Regions from separate parts of the Homo sapiens genome. Here region 1 is linked to region 2. Evidence: fine-mapped expression QTL. A gene starts in region 2. The other region holds a variant in brackets. All regions are shown on one strand. Distances are from middle to middle.

Evidence for each region.
Region 1: its variant is fine-mapped to the expression of PPM1K-DT in fetal neocortex (Walker 2019, PIP 0.95).

The regions. Positions count from the first base shown.
Region 1 is chr4:88,253,074-88,261,518 of GRCh38, reverse strand. It overlaps PPM1K (protein phosphatase, Mg2+/Mn2+ dependent 1K), which reads left to right. Exons shown (of 7, transcript NM_152542.5): 7 at 1-3,899. Among named protein-coding and RNA genes, the nearest start is that of PPM1K, 27 kb to the left of the region's middle. The variant G/AG (reference allele first, on the strand shown) is at 4,299.
Region 2 is chr4:88,281,357-88,289,877 of GRCh38, reverse strand. PPM1K-DT (PPM1K divergent transcript) reads right to left here and starts at 4,948. Exons shown (of 5, transcript NR_134238.1): 1 at 4,817-4,948. It overlaps PPM1K (protein phosphatase, Mg2+/Mn2+ dependent 1K), which reads left to right and starts at 5,317. Exons shown (of 7, transcript NM_152542.5): 1 at 5,317-5,472. RefSeq lists a silencer at 4,955-5,174 and enhancers at 4,909-5,432, 5,345-5,434, 5,475-5,534.

The sequences.
Region 1 (8,445 bases), 28 kb after region 2:
GTCTTCCGGTCAAAAGTTAAATACTGATGGAATCAAGTATTTTGTATGAAGTTCTCATTTGTTATCTCTAACGCTATTTTGTGTTTTGCATATAGTATTATAGTATGTGTATATCACTTTTTGTATAGAGTAAGCAATTGAATAATTTGTTAATAAAAATAATACCACATTGACTGATACTGCTATAGACATAGCTTGAGTTTTATGTCTCCTTTTTGCTCATTTTCTAAGACTTAGGAGAAAGAATAAATCTAAAATGACCATTAAAACATTCTCCATTTCAGCTTGCTGTGTAACTTAGGAAGTATAAAACTATACTTCTCTTTATCTGCATGTAAGTTTGCTGTTAAAATGTGAATTTCTAAATGTGTATTTGGAATTATTTCCGTAGTTTATTTCTGCAAACTATGTAAATTTGTTATATGTGTGAGTATGTGTACATATGTATATTTTAGAGTAATATAAAATTAAAGGGAACAATCTTGCATAGCTCTTTCACCAGTTTTAAATTATTGATACGTTATTTTTAAGGACTCTTGACAAACTAGGGGCAATTTTCTTATAGTGGAGACCCAGTGATTATCAGCAGATGAGGAAATAGGTTAAAAATTGCTATATGGCAATTTGTATATAAAGTAATAGGATGTGAGAAAAATACTGAATCTTAAGAATGACATGGAATTCTGTGGCAGAAACAAAAGAAAAAGTTGATGTAGTATATACCTTCAACTGTGTTTTGAGTTGACTTTTTTTTTTTTCTTTAAGCTTTGGGTAAAAATGTATGAGGAGGGAGAGGGCCCAATATAAATATTTACATCTTCTTACCTTTTTGGAAATGGAAGAAGATAAATCTTGAGTTTTTCTGCCTATATTAATCAGGAATTGCCCTTTGAAAAAAGTGCTAAATAAATATTTTGATTTTTTTTTTCAAGGGAAGTTAGGTGAAAGAAGGAAAAACATCACAGGAAAGACTGTTAACATTCTGTTTGTTGTCTGAGAGGTGAGGAACCAAAGGGAGGCAACTAAAGCGGGAAACCATCTTGCTTTTTCTAATCAGTTCTTGGAACAGAAATGTGGAAGCTACCTTTAGGAACATGGAGAATTTCCAAACCAACAGGCAAAGGAAAACTAACGCACAAAAATGACATTCTGAAGATGCAGGTTTCAGCCAGGCGCGGTGGCTCAAGCCTGTAATCCTAGCACTTTGGGAGGCCAAGGCAGGTGGATCACCTGAGGTCAAGAGTTAGAGACCAGCCTGGCCAACATGGTGAAACCTCATCTTGACCAAAAAATGCAAAAATTAGCCAGGCGTGGTGGTGGGTGCCTGTAATCCCAGCTACTGGGGAGGCTGAGGAAGGAGAATTGCTTGAACCTGGGAGGCGGAGGTTGCAGTGAGTCGAGATCGCGCCATTGCACTCCAGCCTGGACAGCAGAGCAAAAACTCCATCTCAGATAAATAAATAAACAAATATGCAGGTTTCATTTTTGTTTTGAATGCTTTACATTACTATTCCTATCTTTTACTTTAAAAACTAAGATGAGGAGTGATGTTGTCAAGTTCAAAGGCATGAGGGTGATTGATGGATTGAGGTAGATAGCCAAGTTTGTCTGTTTTTGTTTTTTATAGTTACAGAGTCTCACTTTGTTGTCCAGGCTGAAGTGCAGTGGTGCAATCATAGCTCACTGAGATTGCCAGGTTCGACAAAGAGGAATTTATAGGATGGGGATATAGGGTAGACTTGACTCTGCTTTATCCGGGAAAGCTTTTAAAACTCTGAGCCAGTTAACTTTGAGTAAGCATAAAACATACTGTATTGGTGTTTGTATTTTTCATGCCACAATATTAAAATGGAATTTTAAATGTAGATTATTATAATCTATAAAAGATAAGTATGCATGTATTAGGATACTGGAAAATATGCAAATCATAGTAAAAAAAAAGGGACTGCTCTAGTTTTTCAGTTATAACTGAATTTGCCATGTGGGTATAGGCATAGTGTAAATTACATTAATGTAGTAAAACATCAATTGTGGTTCGGTTTGTCTTTCATTTATGTGTAGTATAGAAATCACCTTTCTAATATGTGTTGCCAAACTATTTGCCACCATCTATTTGGTGAAATATTCATTGTCATTGTGATTTTCCACAAGTATAAGTTCTTAAGTACTTTATAGATTCAGAAGTAAATGCTGTCCTGTTCTCCATCAGCTGTTCGTTTGTTACAGATTTTGTATTTCTTTTTTTTTTTTTTTGAGATGGAGTCTCACTCTGTCACACAGGCTGGAGTACAGTGGTGCGGTCTCGGCTCCCTGCAACCTCTGCCTCCCGGGTTCAAACGATTCTTCTGCCTCAGCCTCCTGAGTAGCTGGGACTACAGGCGCGTGCCACCACCCCTGGCTAATTTTTGTATTTTTTTTTCTTTTTTTTTTTTGAGAAGGAGTCTCTCTCTGTCACCCAGGCTGGAGTGCAGTGGCACGATCTCGGCTCACTGCAAGCTGCGCCTCCTGGGTTCACGCCATTCTCCTGCCTCAGCCTCCCGAGTAGCTGGAATTACAGGCGTCCGCCACCGTGCCCGGCTAATTTTTTTGTATTTTTAGTAGAGATGGGGTTTTGCCATATTGGCCAGGCTGGTCTCGAACTCCTGACCTCAAGTGATCCACCCACCTCGGCCTCCCAAAGTGCTGGGATTACAGGCATGAGCCACCGCACCTGGCCAGATCTTTGTATGTCTTAAGTGTTTCAAAGTTATAAGCATTTTTCTGGGGGGATGTCCATTTTGGAGGGATCCATTTTGATCCTTTGTACTCTATAATGTGAACTTTCCCCTGTTCCAACACTTAAAAGAGAATTATTAGCACATAATCTAAAAGATGGAATTTTTTTTTTTTCTTGAGACAGAGTCTCGCTCTGTCGCCAGGCTGGAGTGCAGTGGCGCGATCTTGGCTCACTGCAACCTCTGCCTCCTGGGTTTAAGCGATTCTCCTGCCTCAGCCTCTGGAGTAGCTGGGACTACTCGTGCATGCCACCACGCCCGGCTAATTTTTGTATTTTTAGTAGAGACAGGGTTTCACCATATTGGCCAGGATGGTCTCGATCTCTTGACCTCGTGATCCACCTGCCTCGGCCTCCCAAATTGCTGGGATTACAGCACTGTGCCCTCCTAGGAAATTATTTTTTAAGTGAAATTTTATTTTTATTTTTTTTAGGATTTTGGTAGAGAATGAGTAGGCCTACTCATCAATATCAAACAGGACATTTAGTTTCTTTCCTTAGAACAGACATAAATTTAATTTCATGGTAATATGATAATAAGAAAATGCTTCTATTTTTCTTTAGCACCTCCATGGTTCTCATATACCCATGTCTGTAAAAAGTGACATGAGAATTTTGTTGGGTTACATTTTATTGTATTTATTAGATTCGCTTATATAGATGACTTAGGCAGAAATAAAGTCATGTCTTTAGAAGGTGAACAAGCCAACTTGTGATGGCCTGCCTTTTGCTTTTGGCAGTTGGGATGAGAACAATTGACTCTCCCATTGGTTGTTAGATAGTTGAAATGGTGCGTTGGTGGTCATACTTAGTGTTCTAGGCTGTGAAATCATGGAGTTCTTCCACTTCCAAGAATGACTCATTTGCTGTTGGATTCTAGTACAGAATTTAGCAGCCTGATGTGTCCCCAAACTGATTTAATTTCTACTGAAGTGCCCTTGTGTACATTTGTTTTGTAATTTACCAAAGTACTACCTGAGTGTATAATGACTCCTGCAGTGAGTTAATGTAATTGCTGCTTTGACCATTGTTTTAAATCTGTGTACTAGAGTAACTGTGAGCAGAATGAAATCACATTATCTCAGTGTTCAAAATATCATTCTAATAAAGTACATGCATTAAACAATTTTAAAAATCCAACTGTGTTTATTTGGCATCCAGACTGCAACATTGTGTATGTGATCCTGTGAACTCCATAAAAGAGTGATATAAAAGAGCTAATGGGCCGGGTGCAGTGGCTCATGCCTGTAATCTCAGCACTTTGGGAGGCCAAGGCGGGTGGATCACTTGAGGCCAGGAGTTTGAGACCAGCCTGGCCAACATGGCAAAACCCCGTCTCTACTAAAAATACAAAAATTAGCCGGGTGTGGTGGTGCGCACCTGTTATTCCAGTTACTCGGGAGACTGAGGCCTGAGAATCACTTGAACCTGGGAGGCAGAGGTTGCAGTGAGCCAAGATCATGCCACTGCACTTCAACCTGGGTGACAGAGTGAGACTGTCTCTCAAAAAAAAAAAAAAAAAAAA[G/AG]ATAGTCCAGAAACTCTAACCTAATAGATGAATGAACATTAGAGATGGTAATTGAGAATATGTCACATAAATGTACAAGCCAAATGAATATAACTGGGGAGCAAGTATGAAGGAGTGGATAGAATGACCAAACAGTACAGGACTTAGAAATGACCATGTAGGGAAGCCTAATAAAGTCAGTCTACCAGTGGTAAGTATTGAGAACCTATGACCTATGTACATTTCTGTAAAAGACACCAGGGTGGATGTAGCAGGGCTTGGGGACAATGGTGGTCGATTATCTTCCCAGAGAGATTTTGTCAGGAGATGGAAAAGTGAGGAAAGTGAATTATACCAGAAAGATAGCAGTGTGTATCTGAACAAGTGAAGCGAATGTGGAGGCAACAGAGATCTAATCAGTGAAGTCACTGAGCCTTTGGTAACACACCAAGGGTAGGTTCTAGCCCGGATCAGGAGATCTATCTCACATCTTAGGAGGCAGGGAGCCAAAAGCAAGACTAGTAACATGGCTTTTTTTTTTTTTTTTTTTTGCTGAGCCCAGTGCAAAATAAAAATGCAGAGCCATTATTAAAAAATTATTAAGAATTTAATAAAGAGTCCAGTGTGGTGGCTTATGCCTGTAATCCCAGCACTTTGGTAGGCCGAGATGGGTGGATCGTTTGAGCCCAGGAGTTTGAGACCAGCCTGGACAATGTAGTGAAACCCTGTGTCTATAAAAAATAGAAAAATTAGCCAGATGCGGTGCACGCTTGTAGTCCCAGCTATTAAGGAGGCTGAGATGGGAGGATTGCTGGAGCCCAGAAAGTTGAGGCTGCAGTGAGCTGTGATCCTGACACTGCACTCCAGCCCGGGCAACAGGGAGCAAGACTTCAGACTCCATCTCAAAAAAAGGGAAAAGGAATTTCAAGATTGCAAGAATAGAGCATTAAATCAAGTGTGGGACCCTTCCAAGTGCTGGGCCCTGTGTAGCTACACAGGATTGACACTCATGAAGTTGACCCTAGCCAAAGGGAAATACTATGTGGGAGCAAATCTTAAGTTACTGCAGAGCACACAAAAAAGAAGGGAGCATAATGTAAAGAAGCCAATAGTGCTCTACAACACACATACGTAGAGGCTAGGAGAACAGAAGGCGTCAATAAAAGTAGCAGTAGAAGGCCAGGTGCCGTGGCTCATTCCTGTAATCCCAGCACTTTGGGAGGCTGAGGCGGGCAGATCTTTTGAGGCCAGGAGTTCGAGACCAGCCTGGCTAACATGGTGAAACCCCATCTCTACTAAAAATAAAAACATTAGCCAGGTTTGGTGGTGCAGGCCTGTAGTCCCAGCTACTCTGCAGGCTGAGGCACGAGAATCGCTTGAGCCTGGGCGGTGGAGGTTGCAGTCAGCCAAGATCGCACCAACAGAGTTAGACTCTTTCTCAAAACAAAAAAGAAAAAGAAAAAGTTTAGTAGCAGAACACTTCATGGTAAGAGCTCAGAGAAAGAGCTTTCAATTAAGGTGTCCCAGGAGTTGTCCTATTTCATTTATTTCTTCCCAAAATATTGTAAGATGGAGGTACGGTATTGTCACAGGTTGCGTTCCCTAGGAAGCAGACTCAGACTGAGATTAGTGTGCAGGAAGTTTATTAGGTAATGCTCTTGGAAACAACACATATGACAGGGAAAGGACAGAAGCAGGAATGGGCAGAGGGAGACTTTGGTCTGTCATGTCATGACAGAGGCCCACTGTCCTCTGCAGGGAGCTCTGGAATTGCAATGTCCCCTAGAGTTGTGCCCACTTGATGGGGGTCTGAGGAACAGATTTTTATTACCCTGACATTGAGCATTAATTGGATGCAGACAGTCCTTGGAAAGAGGACGTGACTGAACAAGGAGACTGTCTTCTGCCATCTGCCATCAGGAAATACCTGGAGAGGATGACAGATGAGAGCTGTCCCCTGGCAGTGCTCCTAGCAGCTAGAGAAAGAGTTCTCGCACAACACAGCATCCACTAAGATTTTTATTTTTTTGTTTTTTTAGAGATACAGTCTTGCTCTGTCACCCAGGCTGGAGTGCAGTGGCACTGTCACAGCTCACTGCAGCCTTGAACTCCTGGGCTCAAGGAATCTTCCCACATCAGCCTCCTGAGTAGCTAAGACTATATTATAGGTGTAATTTTTTTGTAGAGATGGGGTCTTGTTATGTTGCCCAGGCTGGTCTCAAATGCCTGGCCTCAAGTGATGCCCCTGCCTGAGTCTCCCAAAGTGCTGGGATTACAGGTGTGCGCTACCGTGCCCTGGCCTGCATCCACTAAGTTTTAACTTCACTCTGCATTTAAGACTGAAAAGACTGAGGGATTTGTCCAAAATCCCACACCAGTTTCTGTGCAGTTCAAACCTTCATTTCTGGGAACTGCCCCTTACTCATAGCTCTTACTTAAATGTTTGGTCTGGGGGCCATGTTTGTACCAACTGACACTTATTGCTATTTTTTTTTTTTTTTTTTTTGAGACAGAGTCTTGCTCTGTCGCCCAGGCTAAAGTGTAGTGGCACAATCTCGGCCCACTGCAACCTCCGCTTCCTAGGCTCAAGCGATTCTCCTGCCTCAGCCTCCCGAGTAGCTGGGATTACTGGTGTGCACCACCACGCCTGGCTAATTTTTGTATTTTTGGTAGCGATGGGGTTTCTCCATGTTGGACAGGCTGATCTCAAACTCCTGACCTCAAGTTATCATCCTGCCTCCACCTCCCAAAGTGCTGGGATTACAGATGTGAGCCACTGCGCCTGGCCACTTCTTGCTATTTGGACTACATGATCCTAAAGTCAATCCTTGGCCAGTCAACAACCATATTCTCTTAAAAATTTATGCTGAGAGAAGGTTGGGCTCCTGAGCTGTGTAATGGAAGGAGCTAAGATTGAAAGATTTGTCAAACTGGCCTACTGGTTTCTAGAAAACGTGCACACTGTTAAGTGCAGAGAAAAGCAGAGATGAGAGCAGACATTTCCCAGAGAGAGACAGAAGTGGAGGAAAGAGCTGCCTCAGGCCCAGCAGTCTCAGCTCCCAGCCCCTGGCTGGTTTGAGAAGATTTCTGTATAGATTCAAACTCCTGTAGATAACAAAAAAAGCAGCCCCTGAGGACTCTAGCAAGGGATTCAAACCCAGCCCTATTTCATCCCAAAGTCAGTTATTTTCCACTGCAAAAGTCAGATAAGGTTAATAAGTACTTATACATTAATAAGTAAATGAAAAAATACCAGAAGGAACATGAGAACGCTGCAGCCATTAATTGGAAACCAGGAGGAAGAGAGTAAGTAGAAAATGTGTCAGGGCAAGAAGGAGAAAACACAGTAAAAGTAAACAAGACCAAGACTAAAGTTAACCAAACTCTTAGATTTTAGACTTCCCTGACCACAATTATGGCTTCACTTTCCCATTTCTCATTCACTTCTCAATTCCCTGCATTCTACCCTCTGACTCCACCACACCAGTGAAACATTGGTCTCAAAGGTCCACACTGACCTCTTATTGGCTAGATACAGTGGTTCTTTTTAGTTTTAACTTACTTGAGCTCTTTAGCATTTAACCCTCTTGGCCACTCCCTTCTCATTAAGCAGTCTTATCTTTCCCATCCCTACTTTTCTGGTTTTCCTTCTAAATATCCAGCAGTTGCTTCTCAGTCCCCTGCCCACTCATTGTCTACCATCAACCATCTTCTCATGGTGTGTACTGTCCTTGTGAAAGGCAATACTGCGTTATGACTGCACCTGTCACCTGTATGCTGGTGACTTGCCACTTTATTCCCAGCCAAGATTTCTCTCCTAAGCTCCCAACTAAAATATCCAGACAGGGACTGAAAATGGCCATTGAGGGCCTCTAGACACCTCAACATATCCAAAATGGAATTCCCACCCAAGCTTATTCCTTCTAATTTGCCTCTCGTGGTGAATGGCAATGCCTCCCACTCAGACTCCCAAAGCAAAACCCAGGAACCAACCTTTGCTGCTTCATGTCTATAATTTGTCTCCTCTGCTCCATCCTCACTACAACACGGGAGTTTTCCAACTGGTTTCCCTTGCCTTTGGGGTCACCCTTTGTCCATTCTTCACACACTAATCAAAGCATGCTTATGTTTACATTCTTCCAATTGCAACTTCTAGGTAAAATTAAAG
Region 2 (8,521 bases):
CAGGGAGCAGCCATTCTCTGGAACATTGCTGGTTGCAATGGCAGAGGTGAGTGAACCTTGGAGGGTCTTGCACAGGGATACGAAATGCTCACTCAAAAATTACCCCATCACCTCCACTCACAATTCATTGACCAGGACAAGTCACAGATGCCTGCCTTCGCCTGGCACTACTGGCTTGGGTGATGAAGAACAGTAAACATTTAGCAAACAATGCTAATAATGACTATCATATTTCGCTTCCTTGATTTTGAGCATTTTGTGATTTAAATAAAACACAATTTTGTATAACCTTTCTTACAAAATACATTTACAAAATATGATTGTTCTCACAACAGCTCTGATGGGAAACATGCAATTAAAGGCTTGAATAAGGGTCAAATAGAATGAATAATAGTCAAATAATCGGAGGTGGAAATGGAAAGACATTTCAAATCTCTGTAGCATTGGTACTGGTCGAAGTTTTTTTTTTTTTTTTTTGAGGCAGAATCTTGCTCTTTTGTTCAGGCTGGAGCGCAGTGGCATGATCTTGGCTCGCTGCAACCTCTGCCTCCCAGGTTCAAGTGATTCTCCTGCCTCATCCTCCCGAGTAGCTGGGATTACAGGTGCACGCCACCACACCCAGCTAATTTTTGTATTTTTAGTAGAGACGGCATTTTGCCATGTTGGTCAGGCTGGTCTCGAACTCCTGACCTCAAATGATCCACCCTTCTCGGCCTCCCAGAGTGCTGGGATTACAGACATGAGCCACTGCGCCTGGCCTGAAGCTTATTTATTCCAAATTTTTAGAGGTAAATTATACAGGGTGGGGGAAGCAACAATCATATTTTAAAATAAAATCATTGCTGCAAGTTTAATTGCATCCAAGGACAAGATTTCAAATTCTCTCTCTCTCTTTTCTTTTCTTTTTTTTTTTTAAAGAGACAAGGTCTTGCTTTGTTGCCCAGGCTGGAGTGCAGTGGCATGTTCATAGCTCACTGCAACCCCAAACGCCTGGGATCAAGTAATCCTTCCACCTCAGCCTCTCAAGTAGTTGGGACTACAGGCATACATCACCATGTCTGGCTAATCTTTTTTTTTTTTTTTGTAGAACAGGGGTCTCACTATCTTGCCCAGGCTGGTCTCGAATTCCTGGCCTCAAGCTGTCTTCCTGCCTTGGCCTCCAAAAGTGGTGGGATTACAGGGATGAGCCACTGCAACAGACCTAAAAATTCTCTATGTCAGTGTTTTGGCAATTATCTTGGTAACACAGAGAAGGGACATCTGGGCTAGCAATTCAGGACAGAGCAGCCTGAACTGTGGAAAAAATACATCCTAGTATCCCAGGCCCATGTTTTAGGCATGAGGCCAAGAGTAGCCTACAGATACTTTTCTAGAAAACTGCTGATTCTGAGTATACAAAAATGTCCATATCTAATTTTAACAACAAATGATTCATTAGTGAATATTAATAATTCTGCAATTATACATACCACCCACCCACCCAAAGCCCTGTGAATTGTTTTGGGTGTAATTTTCTGATAGCCAGTGGTTTTCAGCAGATGGTCCAATTCTTTAAAATATAAACTGAGCTGGGCACAATGGTGCATGCCTGTAGTCCTAGCTACTCCAGTGAGGCGGGAGAATCATTTGAGCCCAGGAATTCAAGGCTATAGTGCACTATTATCACATTTGTGAATAGTCCCTGCAATCCAGCCTGGGAAACACAGGGAGACCCTGTCTCTAAAAAAAAATAAGTAAATAAAATAAAATATAAACTGAATAAAGAAGTAGCTCAACTTAATGAATGTACGGAGTGCCATATCCCCTTGATTATTTTGTACATTGTGCAGTGATCTGTCATGCCAAGTCAGCCTCTGTGGTGAATTCTTTTCCATTTTTTAATTTTTTGTCAAATACCAAATAATGATTTCCTTTACACATTATTCACATTTTAAAAGCTTTTATTTTAGGTTCTGGGGTACATGAACAGGTTTCTTATACAGATAAACTGCATTTCATGGGGGTTTGGTGTACCAATAATTGTGCATTTTATTTTATTTTTTTGAGACGGAGTCTTGCTCTGTCGCCCAGGCTGGAGTGCAGTGGCGCGATCTCGGCTCACTGCAAGCTCCGCCTCCCGGGTTCACGCCATTCTCCTGCCTCAGCCTCCCAAGTAGCTGGGACTACAGGCGCCCGCCACCACGCCGGCTAATTTTTTGTATTTTTAGTGGAGACGGGGTTTCACCGTGTTAGCCAGGATGGTCTTGATCTCCTAACCTTGTGATCCACCCGCCTCGGCCTCCCAAAGTGCTGTCACCTAGGCTAGAGTACAGTGGTGAGATCATGGTTCACTGCAGCCTGGACCTCCTGGGCTCAGGTGATCCTCCCACCTCAGCCTCCCGAGTAGCTGGGATCACAGGTATGCGCCACCATGCCTGGCTCATTTTTGTATTTTTTTGTAGAGACCATGGTTTTGACATGTTGCTCAGGCTAGTCTTGAACTCCCAGCTCAAGTGATTGGCAGCCTTGGCCTCTCAAAGTGCTGGGATTACAGGCATGAACCACTGTGCTGGCCATGAATTATTTTTGTGGTGTATTTAGCTATGCTTCAGAGATTCAAAACCCAGAAGCATATAATTCAAAAGAAGTAAACTGCTGGCTTTAATTTTAATGAGCTGTGGTAGAGTGTGAAATGGTGTGATTTTCAAAGGCAATTTCAAGGACTGTTTTAGTATCAAAGATATTCTTCAGAACAGCCTAAGTGGCTTTGCTTATCATGTGACTCTGGATTCCAGTCTGTTTTGGTACAAGGATTTAGCAAAGTCATGATGTTCTCAGATGCTGGGCATGCAAGTGGTTATAAAAAAGGTCAAAACTCCAGGACAATTCAAAATATTTTACACTTCCAAGCTTAAAATTTCCCACATCTTTCTTGTTACCAAAATTTTTCACATTTGTGAAAGCAAAGTCCTCATTATCTGCACCAAATTTTGATCCAAATGATTGAGATATTGCAACACATGATACTACATTATTGATGAGCAGATTTTTAAAAACTTAATAGTAACTTAGCTACCAAAATACTCCATCAAATGAAAGCCATCACCAACAGATATGTAGTAGAATGCTCATAGTAGCACTATCTATAATGGCTCTAAATGGCAAACTGCCCTAATGTCCATCAGAAGAATGAATTCATAAATTACAGTATATCCACAGAATGGAAAACAAAATGAATGATCTACAACTGCATACAACAATATGGAAGAATCTCACAAGTGTAATGTTGAGTCCAAGTAGCCAGAAACAAAAGAACACATACTTTATGGCTTTATATATAACAAGTATAAAGATAGGCAAAACTACCTATGCTGTTGAAAGTCAGCATAGAAACTCCCCTTGGAAGAAGGCAGTGCCTGGAAGGCAGGTTGATGGGGTTCCCAGGTATTAATAATGTTTTGTTCCTTGATCTGGGTGCTGGATACAAAGGTGTCTGCAGACTGTGAAAATTCATTGAGCTGTCTACACTTAGGATATGTGCACTTTTTAAGACACATGTTTCAATAAAATTATTATTTTTTTAAATTCCACGCCAGGTACAGTGGCTCATGCCTGTAATCCCAGCACTTTGGGAGGCTGAGGTGGGTGGATTGCTTGAGTTCAGGAGTTCAAGACCAGCCTGGGCAACATGGGGAAGCCCCATCTCTACAAAAAATATAAACATTAGCTGTGTATGGTTGAGCGTGCCTGTAGTCACAGCTACTTGGGAGGCTGAAGTGGGAGGATCACTTGAGCCTGGGAAGCAGAGGTTTCAGTGAGCTCAGATAGCGCCACTGCACTCCAGCCTGGGCAGGAGTAAAACCCTGTCTCAAAAAAAAAAAAAAAAAAAAAAAAAAAAGAAAGAAAGACAAAAGAAAAAAAAATCCAGGAAGTCTATGAAAAGACATCAACTCAACATAATATTACTCAAGGTTATTACTATAATTTGTGAGCCGTCAATATGAGAGTCACTCTCTAACCTGGTTATTAAATGCACTGGATTCAAAACAGTTGTCCCTGGCCTAGAATAACTAAAATGCCAAATCAAGTTAATTATTTATCTTTAAAATCTCTAATCTCTCTGCTCTTCTCTCCCTTCAGTGATATTGTCATAGTTTAATCAAAGTCATCTTCCACCTTAAATTTCATCTGTCATCATCTCCTAATCAGTTTCCCAATAGCTTATTTTAACTGTTCTTTGCACACTAACCAAAGTGATGTAAAGTCTAAACCCAGACCCTTTCACTTCTTTTTTTCGAATGCCTCAATAGAAGCCCATTAAATTTAAAATGTAATGCCAACTCCAAGCCCCTGTCTGCCTCATCTCTCTCACATCATGCTGTTCTTTCCCTCCCTCAATATGCTGGAGACACTTTGGCTTTCTTTCTGTTCTTCCAAAACGCCGGGCTGTCTCACCGAGAGACCTTTGTCTGCTGTCCCCTCTGCCCAAAACAATTCATCATTTTATTGGTTCCATGGCTGAATGACTGATGGTTTAAATGCCATCTTATAAAGTTCTCATATAACAATCTTATCTGAAGTTATCCTCCAGTGTCCACACCATGCCTATTTCTTTCCTTGACATGATTAATTACTATTCTATGTGCTTGCTTACTTGTTGGTTTTCTCCCTCTTCTTTGTTAGACTGAAAATTCTATGAGGGCAGCTATCGTGTCTAGCTGTGTTAGGGGCGTATCCCCAGTGCCTAGCAAATGTATAGCATACAAGACGTCCTTCAATAAACACAGAAATACTTGTTTAATGAATTAATAGACATTCCCTAAAGATCACAAGATACCTGTTCAGCCACGAAGAAGACTGCACTGTGCACTGCTGTTCAAAGACATGGCAGTGAAATCAGATGCCTTTCAAACTCTAAGCCTAAGCAGTATTGGCATTCCGTTCTCGGTTTCCTGGCTGTCACAACTACAGTCCCTTAGCCCGAAGCGAAACCCCCTCCGCGCTCCGCCCGCTGGCTAGGTACCAAGTCTCGCGGCCCCACCCACCGCGCAAGCGCGCCCCCTCTTTGGCTGGGGAGCTAACCTCGGGAGGGCGGGGCGCCGCCGCGAGCCACCACTGGCACAGGGTGACGTCGCTCCGCCGCGCAGCTGGAAGCCTGCGAAGTCAAATAGCAGCCGCGGGGAGGCTCGTTCCCATCGGCATCTGTGACTGGCTGCGATCGAGGGCCCGGGCGGCCGGCCAGCCGTCTCGCCGAGTGCGGACTGGCCGGATCTGCTGTCAGTCAGCGGGAACAGACTTCTCCCTCTCCATCTGGTCAACTGCGGGAGAAAAATTTTCGAGAATTTCCAGCAGGCAAGGCAGTGGCCGCTTTGACTGCTTGCTTCGGAGATCCGAGACGACGGAGAAGGCACTCTTATTTACCGACCAAGAAAGCTCCTCCCCCGTCCTCCGTTAGCTAATTAAAACATTTTTCAGGGACGTAGCCATCCAGAGGTAAGAGCCTAGAGAGTGCAATTCATTTATTTCTGCTAACCATGTATGCTGTTCTTTATTGGCGGTCGCGGAATGGAGAGTAAACGGAGAAGGGTTTCCCGGGAGGTCGAAGGGGAGACGTCGGTTTCCGTTCCCCCGCCCCCCGAGTCGGCGCTTGGCCGGCGGCCTCTCGGAGTTCTCAGAGCGTCGCTTTCTTCCCTTTGGAGGTCGTGAGCAGCTCGTCGGGGTGAGGCGGGGCCCAGCTGGGCTGCCTGCGCCCCGGGCGGCGGGTTTCCAGCCCAGACTGCGCTCGGCCTTGAATGTGGCCGCAGGCTGGAGGGCCAGCGCGGCGCGAGGCGGGCAGGGTGGGTGGGCTGGGACTGGAGACCCTTGCCCGAGGCCCCGGAAGCGAGGATGCTGCGGGGTGGGTGCCGCGTTGCCTCCCGGGCGAGGGAAACGTGGCGACAACGGGCTCGGTACGCCCAGAGGGAGGTTGGGAGGCGGAGACCTGGCGGCAGAAGGTGCCGAGGGAGCCCAGCTATTTGCGAGGCTTCGCAGGCAGGCGGGCGTGTGTTCTTCCCACCGTGTGTCACCCTGACCACCCGCCTGTCAGGGCCAGCGAGCCGAGGCCAGGATCCTGAGCTGTACCCAGGTGAGCTTTTCAGGAGGTCCGGCATCGTGAAGGATGCACAGCCCCGGCTGGTTTTGATCCGAAGACTTGGGTTTTACTTTGCGCAGGGAGCGCTGTAGTACTCAAGGCGTTGTAGCTGGTGATGTCTTTTTCAGCAGCCGCTTTCTGTAGATGAGGGAATTCACCGGATGTGACAAAGAGGCTCCAGGTGGAAATAGCCAGGGAATTTGCAGTCTCAAAAGCTCCACGGGCTTTTCTGAGCCTCCCACTGCTAACGTGCAGCAAGGCCTCATCGGTTCTTTCCGTCAGGGCGGAGGAATGAGGCTGTCCTTCGGTTTCAGAATGAGCGACTAAAGTGACAGATTACAATGACGATGAAAAAGAGCAATGAGACCGGTAGCAATGGCTCACGCCTGTGATCACAGCACTTTGGAAGGCCAAAGCGGGCTTGAGCCCAGGAGTTCGAGACCAGCCTGGGCAACACATCGAAACCTCGGCTCTACAAAACATACAAAAATTACCCGGGCGTGGTGGCATGTGCCTGTGGTCCCAGCCCCGGAGGCTGAGGTGGGAGGATCTCTTGATCCTGAGTGGTCGAGGCTGCAGTGAGCCGAGATCGCACCACTGCACTCCAGCCTGGGCGACAGAGCAAGACCCTGTCTCAGAAAGAAAAAGAAAAACAGCCATGGTTTGTGGTGTTCTGGTTAGGCAGCTGTGGCAGGAAGAAGAGCAGCACGTGCGTGTGTGTGTGTCTGATAAAATACCTTAGTTACAATATTTGAGTAGTGAGTTCTCGCTAATAATTTTTTCTTGCAACCTTAGTCATTACTACTGATCACCCAGGCAAATTCCTTGACTGCAATCCTTAGAGACGAGGAAAGAAGAGAGGAGAGTGGCTGGTGACATAATAGACTGTGAAGGAAAGTTCTTAAAGGCATTATAAAGTTACAGGTTTGGGATATAGTCTGTGGCTTGTATGCATATTTACTAACGTGTCTTAAAAGATATCTATGGGAATAGAATACTGAGTACTTTTCACTGCTCACATTTCACACTTTTCTCCAGTCACACATCTGAACATAGACATATTCACATTAAACCTAAGGGGAGTCCTTTGGAGTTTTTATTGTTGTTTTCTTTTTTCCCCTCAGGTAAAGCAGTAAATTTTCTTTCCCTTCCTCCTAGCAGGGTATTGAGAAAGAAGGTATTGGGGTCCCAATTAGCTGAAATACATTCTGGAAATTTCCATACTATTTGAATTTACTGGGATGCCTTAATTGATTTTCTAAAAAGGTCGATAGGTAAATATTTGGTTTAAGAATATTTAAAAGGGCTGTGTTCTCATTGTGGAAGTTGTAGATACCTAAATGCCACTTCATAATGGGCAGATAGGAATGCTTTCTTAAAATATTTTTTCTAGAGGGATAAAATCTAAGCAGGTTTCAGAACTTTAGAACTCCTGAATAATTTTGGCATGTGCTTAAACTGCCCTTTTGACCTGCTTTTAACATACAAGAACAGTTTAACTCAAATCCAGTGCACCTTCCTGCCAGAGAAAGTGCTTTCCTTTTGGATGACTTGACTTCCAAAGATTGAATATAATGTTAAAATGGTTTATAAAAATAAACTAGCCATGTTTTCCGATCAAAAAATTGACCTAAATCTCCCCTGCTTACTTAAAAAGATTCCTTCTCTCTCTTAGTTTGTGGAATAATGAACTCATCCCAATTTTTAATTGCTGAACTGACAAAAGACAATCCTTAGGTGTTTGCTAGTTTGTTCTCCACTCTTTTTGTTTAGAGAACACTGATTGCTTTTTTTTTTTCCTTAAGGTTTTTGTTTTTCACATCACAAGTTCTACTCCCCTTGCCTTGCTGGTCAAAGCATAGTCATTCCCATGGGCATCGGCAGAGCTGTGGGGTCTATGATGGCAGATCCCAATTGTGGAGTTCTGGAGGAGGAAACTTTTCTTAATGTGCAGGTTTAATTCAAAGTTGTTATTTACTTTGGGAACTCCAGCTGCCTTTGAATTGTTTCTTAGGGAATATGGAGGGGATTGATATGATTTAGTTACATTGCAGATGGAAAAGGACATGGAGCCAGTTCGTAACATCTCGTTTACCTAAGCGATGCCGACCTGTTTGTTTGTTTTTTATAAACTAGCTATATATCTGGGTCACATTTCATCTCTGCCAATAATATGCCTTAAAGTAGGTGGTTTCCTATGACTGCCTGCTTTCTGAGATGATTATAGAAACAATACACGAGGAAGGATGCCAGGTTGATGATTGATTTTAAAATACGCAGGTTTTTAGCCTTACAGAAACTGCTCAATTTGCATTTTATCTCATTTCTTAAAAATGTTTCCAGTGGATATTTGTTCTCTGTGAGAATGCAGTTCTATTTTATTATTTAAAAAAAAATTGGGGGGAGGATAAA